Regions from separate parts of the Homo sapiens genome. Here region 2 is linked to region 1. Evidence: fine-mapped expression QTL. A gene starts in region 1. The other region holds a variant in brackets. All regions are shown on one strand. Distances are from middle to middle.

The links. PIP is the estimated chance that this variant, and not a neighbour inherited with it, causes the effect. A credible set is the group of variants that fine-mapping cannot tell apart.
Region 2: its variant is the best candidate, but not a certain one, in a credible set for the expression of PLGRKT in neutrophils (BLUEPRINT, PIP 0.60).

Annotation. Positions count from the first base shown.
Region 1 is chr9:5,435,391-5,440,771 of GRCh38, reverse strand. It overlaps PLGRKT (plasminogen receptor with a C-terminal lysine), which reads left to right and starts at 2,847. Exons shown (of 6, transcript NM_018465.4): 1 at 2,847-2,983; 2 at 4,078-4,203. RefSeq lists enhancers at 1,481-1,640, 3,201-3,290, 2,346-3,545.
Region 2 is chr9:5,463,043-5,468,356 of GRCh38, reverse strand. CD274 (CD274 molecule) reads right to left here. Exons shown (of 7, transcript NM_014143.4): 4 at 5,236-5,314; 5 at 2,751-2,858; 6 at 1,528-1,587; 7 at 1-517. The coding sequence ends at 495. The region is part of intron 2 of INCR1 (interferon stimulated noncoding RNA 1); the gene reads left to right. Among named protein-coding and RNA genes, the nearest start is that of CD274, 15 kb to the right of the region's middle. The variant G/TG (reference allele first, on the strand shown) is at 3,271.

The sequences.
Region 1 (5,381 bases):
GGCTCCTCTAAGCCATCTCCTTGATTAGATATTGACCTTGGGCTGCAGTGTTCATCCTTGCAGAATCAGTGTTGGCAAGAATCCTGCTAAGTCAGTTTAGAGAGGATCTTCCCACCCTGAATGTTTGACCACTCTCAATATCTGATCAAATTCCTTACCCCCACCAGCCCCCAGGTGATGTCTGCTTACCCTGGCCTACCTTTAGCAAGAATCCTGTTAGGTCAGTTTAGCAAGGATTTCCCCTACCCTTGCTGTCTCTTCTTAGTAATTTTCCATCCACGGACCCCACCCCCATCCACACAACCTGCTCCTCGGCTATAAATCCCCACTTATCCTTACTGTATTCAGAATTGAGCCCAGTTCTTTACCAAGGTCTCTTTCCCCCTATTTCAAAAGTTGCTGAATAAAAATCTATTTTTACTGCTACAGCTATTGTCCAGCTTTGATTTTCCTTAACAAGCCTCATCAGCTGCCATATTGCCTTGAGGGGATGTCAGTTCAGGCACATTCTCACCCAGAAACTAAATTGTAATATTTATCTCCACCACTACTCTTTATGCAGGGTAATAGGAAAAGAGAGTCAGGGAAGAAGTAATTAACATTTTAAATGGAGAGCTACTATAATTCCTGCCTCTAGAGCTTGTTGCAAGGCTAAAATTAATAATCATAGCTTCCTACTCATTTACTTATGTATGTTTCCCCTGCCCTATGCCAACACCTAGGTAGATCAGGATTTTTTTATCTGGTATGCTTCAACACTTTAATTTCTTCATGATCTGAAATTTCTGCATTACTTCAGTTATCTGATAATCATTATTATGGCACACGGCAGTATTAAGAAGTGCCCAGTGAATCTCCAGGTGTCATGCATAGTTCTTCTTGCCCTCAATATATAGATGTAACCCAATTTCCTTTTGGTATTTGGGATGAATCATACCATTCTGTCACTGTGAGGAATCAAAGTGACCAGAGGGCAGTTTCAGCTTTCGAATCAATGAATTGAAATTCAATTCAATTCAGTGACGGGGTCTTCTAGTGGCAGCATTCCTTCCTTTGGATCTAGGCTTCCAAACACAATAAACCCAAGGTTGTAGAAATGGTGTGCTGGAATACTATGCAGCCATAAAAAATGATGAGTTCATGTCCTTTGTAGGGACGTGGATGAAGCTGGAAACCATCATTCTCAGCAAACTATCGCAAGGACAAAAAACCAAACACCGCATGTTCTCACTCATAGGTGGGAATTGAACAATGAGAACACTTGGACACAGGAAGGGGGACATCACACACCGGGGCCTGTTGTGGGGTGGGGGGAGGGGGGAGGGATAGCATTAGGAGATACACCTAATGTAAATGACAACTTAATGGGTGCAACACACCAACACGGCACATGTATACATAGGTAACAAACCTGCACGTTGTGCACATGTACCCTAGAGCTTAAAGTGTAAAAACAAACAAAAAAAAGAAATGGTGTGCTGGATATTTTCTATTTCTCCCTCCAGGCATTGTGCCTAGTAGGCTGACCTCTACAGACTACACAGACCTAGCTCCACTGTCTTCTGGCTTCCTGGTGGATCCAGCCAGCGGAAGACCCCAGCTGGATATCAGAGCTGGGAGAACAGAGAGGTGGGTCTTCTCCACTCTGTCCCTGCTTTGGGCTGACGTCTCAGCACTGGCTACAACTATAGAATCTCACCTTACTTGGTGAAAAGTTGGCATTGCTTGCTTTCCTCTACTGAACGACACGGTTCCAGTTGGTTACTCTCTCGTACAGCCACAGCTACCGCTCTCGCTCTCGCCTGGTTTTAGTAACTGCTTCCTTCCCCCACCCCTCAGCCCTATAGTTACTAACAGCTCCCCGCTGTTACTGGTTACTACTGGTTACGGAAGGCGAACTATGTGCCCGACACTGTGCTAAATGCCCACATATATTATCTTTTAGTCCTCACAATCCAATAAATTAGATGGCTTTAGTCCTGTTGCAGAGGTGATAAATTCAGAGTGACAGTGACAGAGCTAGAAATTGAAGGTAGGTGTGTTTATGCTAGAGTCTGTGCACTCAAACACGATTCCTTACTTCTTGCATCAGTTGTTAACCTCCCTTCAAGAGTGTCAAACCTCCTGGTAACCCGCCCATTCCCTTAACTGGAAATGAGGGTGCTGTTGCAATTTTCTCATCCAGCCATTCCACAAATGGTATCTGGAATGTGGGACCCACAGTCCAGAATCCTGAGGGCTGCTGTTGAGAGCATCAAGACGCGCCCAGGAGGTCAGGGCGGTGTGCACTCACACGCTGAGCCTGGAGAAAGTTAGACGCCTTCTCCACCGCTGTGGTGGTTAGCAGGGACTTTCCTGAAGGCCAGAGACTGGTGACGTTCATGCTATTTTTCCAAGCCATTTGGTAGCAAAGAACAGAGTGCCAACAATTCAAGCATTCTCTCAGGCTGGGAGAGAGACGTGGCTTATTCAAGATAGAAATTGCTGGTGAGGTTGAGGCGAGACCGACATCTCTCTGAGCAGCAGGGGAGAAAGACGGCTCTGTTCAAAAAAGAATGGGTAATTTCAGTCAATTCTCTTCTTTCTCGTTTCTGTCTTATCTTTATGACTTTTTAATAGTGCCAATTTAACAGATGAGGGGACAGAGGCCTTTAATTGAGAATTCCACTCCGCTTCCTCTGCCTCATCTCAAAAATCTGGCAGCTGAGTCGCCGCGGCTTTGAATTTGCCTCTTTTGACCTTCCCCTCCCACCTCTGGTAACACTGAGCCTGGCCCGGAAGGACACACCCGGCTTCTGGCGGAAGTGCCGGCTCTTTAAAGAAGCTGAGGGCTGCGCGAATTGGCTGAGGTGCGTCATCTACTGTGTCTGGGCGCCAATCCCGACGCTGGGCGGAGCGAGGCCCGGTCCCTGCAGCGGGCGAAAGGAGCCCGGGCCTGGAGGTTTGCGTACCGGTCGCCTGGTCCCGGCACCAGCGCCGCCCAGTGAGTGAACACCGGCCGCAGGCGGGTGGGGAGAAGGGTCAGCCCGGCCATGTCAGTCAGCGCGATCTCCTGGGCTCCGGGCTTGCCAGGCAGCGCTGGGCGCCCGCTCCTCGTGAGCGCCGGCTCTTGGCTCTCGCACTGCCCCTGGTGCTGATAGGTATTGCCAACTTCGTTCCATTAGAGCGCGTTCTTGTCGCCTGGCGTGGACTCCGGATCTCTCCGTAGCTTTAAAATAGAGTTGAGAAAAACAGGCACAGTGCTCTCAACAGAAATCAGCACACTATTGCGGGGAATACCTAAATTACAGTAACTGGCCTCAGGGAGCAAGGGCGGTGTTAATTACAGAAAACCTCCGGAAGCTGTGGGCTCTGGGCTGGAATTTGCAAGGGGATGTGGCTTAATTTCAATGGGATGCAAATATTGAAAATGACTGTGGTGAGACGATCAGTCATACATTCAGGCAATGTGTCATCTGATCGGGAAATAAGTCAGCGTGGTAATCCCGATGACAGAATTCATGCAATTAATTTTTTATGTCCCCCCAAGTAAAATCAAATCTAGGTACTCACGGGTGACCGGAAGAAAGGTTGTCTGGAACTTGCAGGCACCACTTCTCCTCCCCAGAAATACACCTTCCCATAGTAATCTATAGCTCACCTGAGGCAGGGCTGAAGCATTAAAGACCCCTTCCAAGATCTCAGAAGGAATCAAAGGGAAAATGAAGACAGAGGGATTGAAATCAGCATTCTCTGCAAAACATCACTCTGAGACACAGTGATGTTTAAAATTGTATAAGTAGCAAGACATTTTTTTTTACCCCTGGTGAAAAGTGTTAGAATTTTTAAAAGACTTAACTTATACAAGTGAGTGAAATCAAAGTTATCCCTATTGCAAGGTCAATTTTGCTTATTTTCTGATACATATTTTGTGAGCAAGAGGAGATAGCTGAAAGTGTTCTGGACACCCTACGGAATATTCCCAGACTTTGGGAAATGACTTTGCCAGGAATGGGGAAGTTGGGAAAGGAAAGAATGTTGAAAATACTGAACTCCAGGGTGAAATTTACAAGGTGTGATGCATTTATTTATTCTCAGGTGTGGTTTCCCATAAGGAAGCTCTTCTTCCTGCTTGGCTTCCACCTTTAACCCTTCCACCTGGGAGCGTCCTCTAACACATTCAGACTACAAGTCCAGACCCAGGAGAGCAAGGCCCAGAAAGAGGTAAATCTAAATACTAACTTCCCAGACAGTGTTTCTTTCCCAGATGATTGACATGAGGACTCTCTCTTTTCAGGGGAGATCCTAACCCCTTACAAACAGGAGCACTTGAAAGCACACAGCTCTGTGATATACAGGGTATGTGGAGGAATAGTACTAGAGTACAGTTGTTTTCTTTATAAATGTTTGCAGCAGGTGTAAAAATTTAGTCATCCACTCCTATGTTCAGAAGAAAAATAAGTAATGGCAAGTGGCCTGAGCCACAGTTTTTCTTGTATCTCTCATGCTTTGTGCAAATATTTAGGGGAAGTAGACACCATGGAGACTATCAAGATGGATAATATCTCGCTCCTAACCTCAGGCAGGTTCTGGTCTGCTGTTAGAGATGAGTCGCATGGGACTGTTAGGGTTTGGAGAAAGGAAAGAACTGCCAAATCACCCTGCTGTCAGTGAGTGGCCTCTAACTCTGGTCACAGGGTGCTCGAGTGGCACAGTGGCAGAAGGGGAGGGAAATCTCACCACCTCAGGCCTTTTCAGCATTGTGCCTCTTCATCCTGGTAAGTGGTTTGGTATCCTGTGCTCAGCTTTGAAGCTGACTCTGGCACAGAGCCCTGAAACTCCAGGTGTATCCTTGATCAGAATACAAGGAAGTCACTGAAGTCTTGCTTGCAGCTCCCACTCACCTGGAACCCCATTAGCTGGGCTTCCCACAGAATACTTGGGAATCCTGGCTGTAATGAATTAAGACTGGCCATTCTTACCTGAGGTTCACAACCCTACTCAACAGCCTATTAAAGAGAAAAGGTATCAGCAACATTGTTGAGAAGGGTAGAGCAGTTGTAACTTTCCCCTGAGTTTTGCAGTATTCTGAAATGCAACCAACTAACTCAAGGTCTTCTGTACCCACCCAGTTGGATTAAGAATAAAAATTGGAGTTCTGTCCCTTGTAGAGTTGACAGCCCACTTAAAAACTTACATAAGATAGACACTACTGTGCATTCATCTAAAAAGTACATTTTCCAGGACATTCAAGTATCTGTATGTTTTTCCATTTTTGAGAACTTTAGTACATGCTATCTTGGAGAGAATGAGAGTGAAGCTGGAGGAGGATGGCTAAGGCAGTTAGCAGTGGGTGGATGGAAATAAGGGGCATGTAGGAGAGGGACAGGGATTGTGGTGGG
Region 2 (5,314 bases), 28 kb before region 1:
CACATGACAAGAAGACCTCACAGACTCAAAATAAATAGGAAAAACTCATACATAAATACTGTCCCGTTCCAACACTGAGACTCTCAGTCATGCAGAAAACAAATTGAGGCATTGAGTGGAGGCAAAGGGCACTTCTGCAGGAACTGACCCTCAAATTAGGGATTCTCAACCCGTCTTCCTAGGATGAGCAATGGATGATTTGCTTGGAGGCTCCTTGTTCAGAAGTATCCTTTCTCCCTGTCACAGGCGTCGATGAGCCCCTCAGGCATTTGAAAGTATCAAGGTCTCCCTCCAGGCTCCCTGTTTGACTCCATCTTTCTTCATTCTCCTCCTCTGCTTTCGCCAGGTTCCATTTTCAGTGCTTGGGCCTTTTAAGTCCCACATTGCCTGCATCCCACGGGCCCATTCCTTCCTCTTGTCACGCTCAGCCCCGATGAACCCCTAAACCACAGGTTGAGAATCCCTGCTTGAAGATCAGAAGTTCCAATGCTGGATTACGTCTCCTCCAAATGTGTATCTGGAGAGTGATAATAGTATATTAATTTCATGGGAAGTGGTCTGGGGAAAAAGTAACAAGAAATCTAATAAAAAACATAACTCATAGTTGCTGATATGATAAATGATAAATTTGAAATGAGAGAAAGCAGCAGGTTATATTTGTACCCAATTATCCTTACATGATATCCTGGAAAACCCCTCAGTCCTGAGCAAATTGGGATGGCTTGTCCCCCAGCATGACCCAAACAACATTTGCTACTTAGCTTTACAACACAGATGATGCTATGGGCCACAGAATGAAACTTGCCTGAGCTTGTCCAGGTTAATTAGACTGCTTTAAACTTGGGCTCATTGTTAAGTTTGGTTTCTAACTACATTAAAAAAATTAGAAACCTTAATATAACTTTCTTCTTAGTTCAATAACCTGGATGAGGTTTTTCTGCCCTGCTTATAAATGTAAACATTTGTAGCAAAATGGATTGAAGCAGATGGGTTAAGAGTAAGGGTCTGTGGTTAGGCTAATGGCCCCCAAGCTTGATTTTTGTGATCAGCTGTGTGTTCTTGGGCACTTTACATTATCTTCTTGACCCTCTGTTTTCTCTACTGTAAAATGAGGATAAATTCTAGTATTTCTCTCTCTCTCTCTCTCTCTCTCTTTGGTAATGGCAAGGGGTGGGGGATTAAATGAGATACCGTGCATGGTGCAATTAACATAGTATTACAATACTGACACACAATATTTTAGAATCAATTAATTATCCATCCACCTAAGTCATCCTTGTCCCCTGCTGCAAGGAGCTGCTAGGGTGCAGGGCAACAGAAGATTAGCAAATGAAGCTGACTCCTTCCCCTTCCCTGCTCCTAAACCTCCTCAGACGGTGGAGGAGTTCTTGTGTTAGCTGTGAGGCAAAGGGGAACCAGCATTCTTTAAAAGGAGAGGAGATTATGACTGATGGATTTCTCTTTGTTATTGCTTTAGCTTTTTGTTTCCTTTGACTTTTACTTCCCAATTCCTTCTGATATTCTTACCACTTTGCTTCTTTGAGTTTGTATCTTGGATGCCACATTTTTTCACATCCATCATTCTCCCTTGAGAAAAAGAAATCATTTTTATTTCCATATAGCACAGCTCTACATCCCATACAGTGACCCAAGTTTAAATTTCAAGTTCTGTGAAACATTTGTAATCCCTAGGAAGTCTGGTGGACATCCTTATTCCACAGGTCCCAACTTATGAGGTTAATTAATTCAATAGTGTAGGGCACATGCTTTTGATCCTAGATGTTCTTGAGGAGTATACACTTTTATTTTTCATCTTTTCCCAGAGATGAACCAAATTCTGAGGTATTTTAATATCTATTGATTTCTATCCATTTCTACTGCCAACTAATCTTTTTTTCCAGAGAAATATTCAAAATGCATGCTGGCAACAATTATTTCTTTGTGCAAATCAACTCCATCTCAGGATCTTACTGTCATTGAAACTTGATCCTTATATTCTGGCTATCTCAGTCCTGTTAAGAATATAATTTTTGGAAACAGCTTATCTCTACTCTCTCAGTTAACACTACTTTCCCCCATGTAAGGGGTTATGGGGAATTTTTCAACGACTATTGGAATCCCCTTCCATATTCTACTTCCCTATTTAACATCAGACAACTCTATACCATCACTGGATCTCTTGGTATACTTCTCTAAGTATTGGAGGAATTATTTACTCTGACTCATCTTAAATGGGAGGAAATTATTTGAATATACTCATTTTCCTGGATTTTAATTGTTCCCACAGGTAAATGGAGAAATGAACACATGCAAATTATGTAACATCCTCTACCAAAAATTTTGCAAAATACTCTATGGTAAACATACTACAGTTCTACAGAGGAACTATTTTTATTACTTAGGGTACCCAGAAACCAGCTGGTTGCAACTAATGCAAGACTAAAATGCAACTGAAAATGACGGGCATTTTAGCTCTTTCTCTTCTGTAAGTCTGTGGTTATTTTCATGATAGAAAAAAACTGTATGACACTGCATCTTCTACCTCCATCCATACCCATTCTCCTGCCCCTCACCCCTTACGCTTCATCTTCACCCAGTGATCCCACTCAGCTTCAATATAATTGCTGTTGAACAGTGGAATGCCTTTGCACCACCTTGCAGAGGTTAAGTCGGGTTTCCTTGCAGCCATGATCCAATTCTCACCCCTTCCTCACCCCCAGTGGAGACCACTGCAATTAAGGAAATACTACCTTTTCTTAAACGGAAGATGAATGTCAGTGCTACACCAAGGCATAATAAGATGGCTCCCAGAATTACCAAGTGAGTCCTTTCATTTGGAGGATGTGCCAGAGGTAGTTCTGAAAAACAAAACAAAACGAAAACAAACTGACTAAAGATAAAATTTTGATGGGAAGGGGTCAGGAGAATGGTCATCCTTGAAGTTTAGTTTAGCTTTAGGATAATTTTCTTAAATGCCAAAGTTTGAGTGGCTGGAATGGCGAGATACCTGTGTTAAAATGGGAACAGCATGGAGAAGTGTGAGAAGCCCAGGCTTTGAAAAGGTGGTGCTGGGGCTAAATTCTGCTGCCCTTAACCAGTTTTGAGGTCTTGGGCAAGATACTTAACCAGTGTACAAAATACAAATGCTAATACATTTCTTGTGAGGCTAATATTTATAATGTGCTTGCACAGTACCACATGGAGTGGCTGCTCACTATTAAATGGCGGCCTTGATTATTTCACTTCCTCTTGCTTTTTTTTTTTTTTTTT[G/TG]AGGCAGAGTCTTTCTCTGTTGCCCAGGGTGGAGTGCAGTGGCGCAATCTGGGCTCACTGCAACTTCCGCCTCCCAGGTTCAAGCAATTCTTGTGCCTCAGTCTCCCGAGTAGCTGGGATTACAGGTGCACACCACCACACCCAGCTAATTTTTATATTTTTAGTAAAGGCAGAGTTTCACCATGTTGGCCAGGCTGGTCACAAACTCCTGACCTCAAGTGATCTGCCCACCTTGGCCTCCCAAAGTGCTGAGATTACAGGCATGAGCCTCCGCTCCTGGCCCCTCTTGCATTCTTTAATATAGAAGCTAGTAGCCTACAGTACATGGCAGAGATGGCCCACAGTAGAACATGGAAGGCCAACCAGCACTGCTAAGGAGCTCCCACCTCCTCCTATCTGTCATCATGATTGGAGGCCAATGCTTGTTGTCTTATCTTTCTCTGCAGTTTGAACATCTCTGGACAACAAGCCATTAGTATCTCTTACTAGGCTCCTTGTCTGGGGTACCATGCAGGAGGAAAGGGGGTCCCATGGTACACAGATGTTCAGAGGCTGCTAACTCCCACCTCTCACCCTTAGTCAGCTCCTGCCTGGCTCAGCTCTCCACTGAGACCCATGATCCATCTTTGACTACCCAGGTGAAACTTTAAAGACACAACAACAGCCAGCTTTTTCCGTAACTTACAGTTTACAATGCCTGTTCACGTATGTTTTATTTCAGTTTCAGAACAACTTTATGAGTTAGGCATGCCAGGTATTTAAAAAAAAATCCCCAATTTACAGATGAGGAAACAGACTCAGTGCAGTTAGGTGAGTTACTGTAGGCCACCCAACAAGTAAGTTGTCATAAAACAGCTTGTAAATGGCAGGAACCCACTAATCTAGCTTTTACTGAAAGCCAGTTCAATACCTGAGGACTCGTACCCCAGTAAGAGCATCCCCATCATTTTCTAAAGTTTTTTCCCCCTCTTTCTGTTCACAACACCGTCCTGGATTATCTTTTCCTATTGATTGACTTTTCTATCTAATTTTTCAGTTGTTTTTGCTGAAGTACGTGGCATTTTCCTATCAACATGTATTGGGGGAGGGGGCAGTGAGCAGCTCTTCTCAGAATATCTTTGTGTTTATATTAAATATCATGCTCACTCGCCTCACTTTCTTTCACATTCTGAGCCTCTCATCAGACTCTGTCTCCCACCCTACCTACTTCTGTAGAGTAGTGAGATAAAAAAAAATAGTTGAATTTGTGCAGGCAATGGTCTCAAATCATTTTCATACACTGTTGCTAATCTGACCCTTACAATAAGCTTGCTCAGTAGATTATAATCCTACAGGGAAAGTGAAGCACACAGAAGTCTAGTAATTTGCCCAGGGACACACAGCCTCATGTTCTATGCACTAAGCAGACTGCTAGAGTTGAAATATTGTAGACTACCTTGGGAGAGGCACCGGGGAGAAAGGGTCCCTCATGTTTGGCATAAGATAGAAAAATATGTTCCATTTATTTCCTGCCACCCTGGAAAGAGGGAAGCAGCTCTGATGTGCCAGGATTTGGATTCCTGAAACAAGGCCTGAATTGAGTATTCCTCTCAGGTATTCCCCAGGTTTCCCGGCTATGAAAGCATTTCCCACATGGTGTTGGATTGCCTGTTTTTTGTTTGTTTCTTAGTTTTTTATCTGTTTCCTGAAGAGTGTGAACTGAGTCTTATTATTCTATGTGTATCCAATGAGTACTACAATGCATGGAACAAAAGGTATATTCCATAAATATCTGCTGAATGTTTATTAAGTAACAATATGGTTTGGATGAATGGAGGTGAGGAATTAGGATATATTTTGTAAACATAGTGTTATTCATTCATTCATTTATTCAACAATCACTGAATGACTATGATAGGCAGACATCATGCTAGGTGCTAGGGGACAGTGTTAGACATATTTTAATGGACACATTCAGAATATTACCTGGGATGACCAATTCAGCTGTATGGTTTTCCTCAGGATCTAATCTCCTAAAAGTGCAGTAGAAAATCTCATTAGTTGT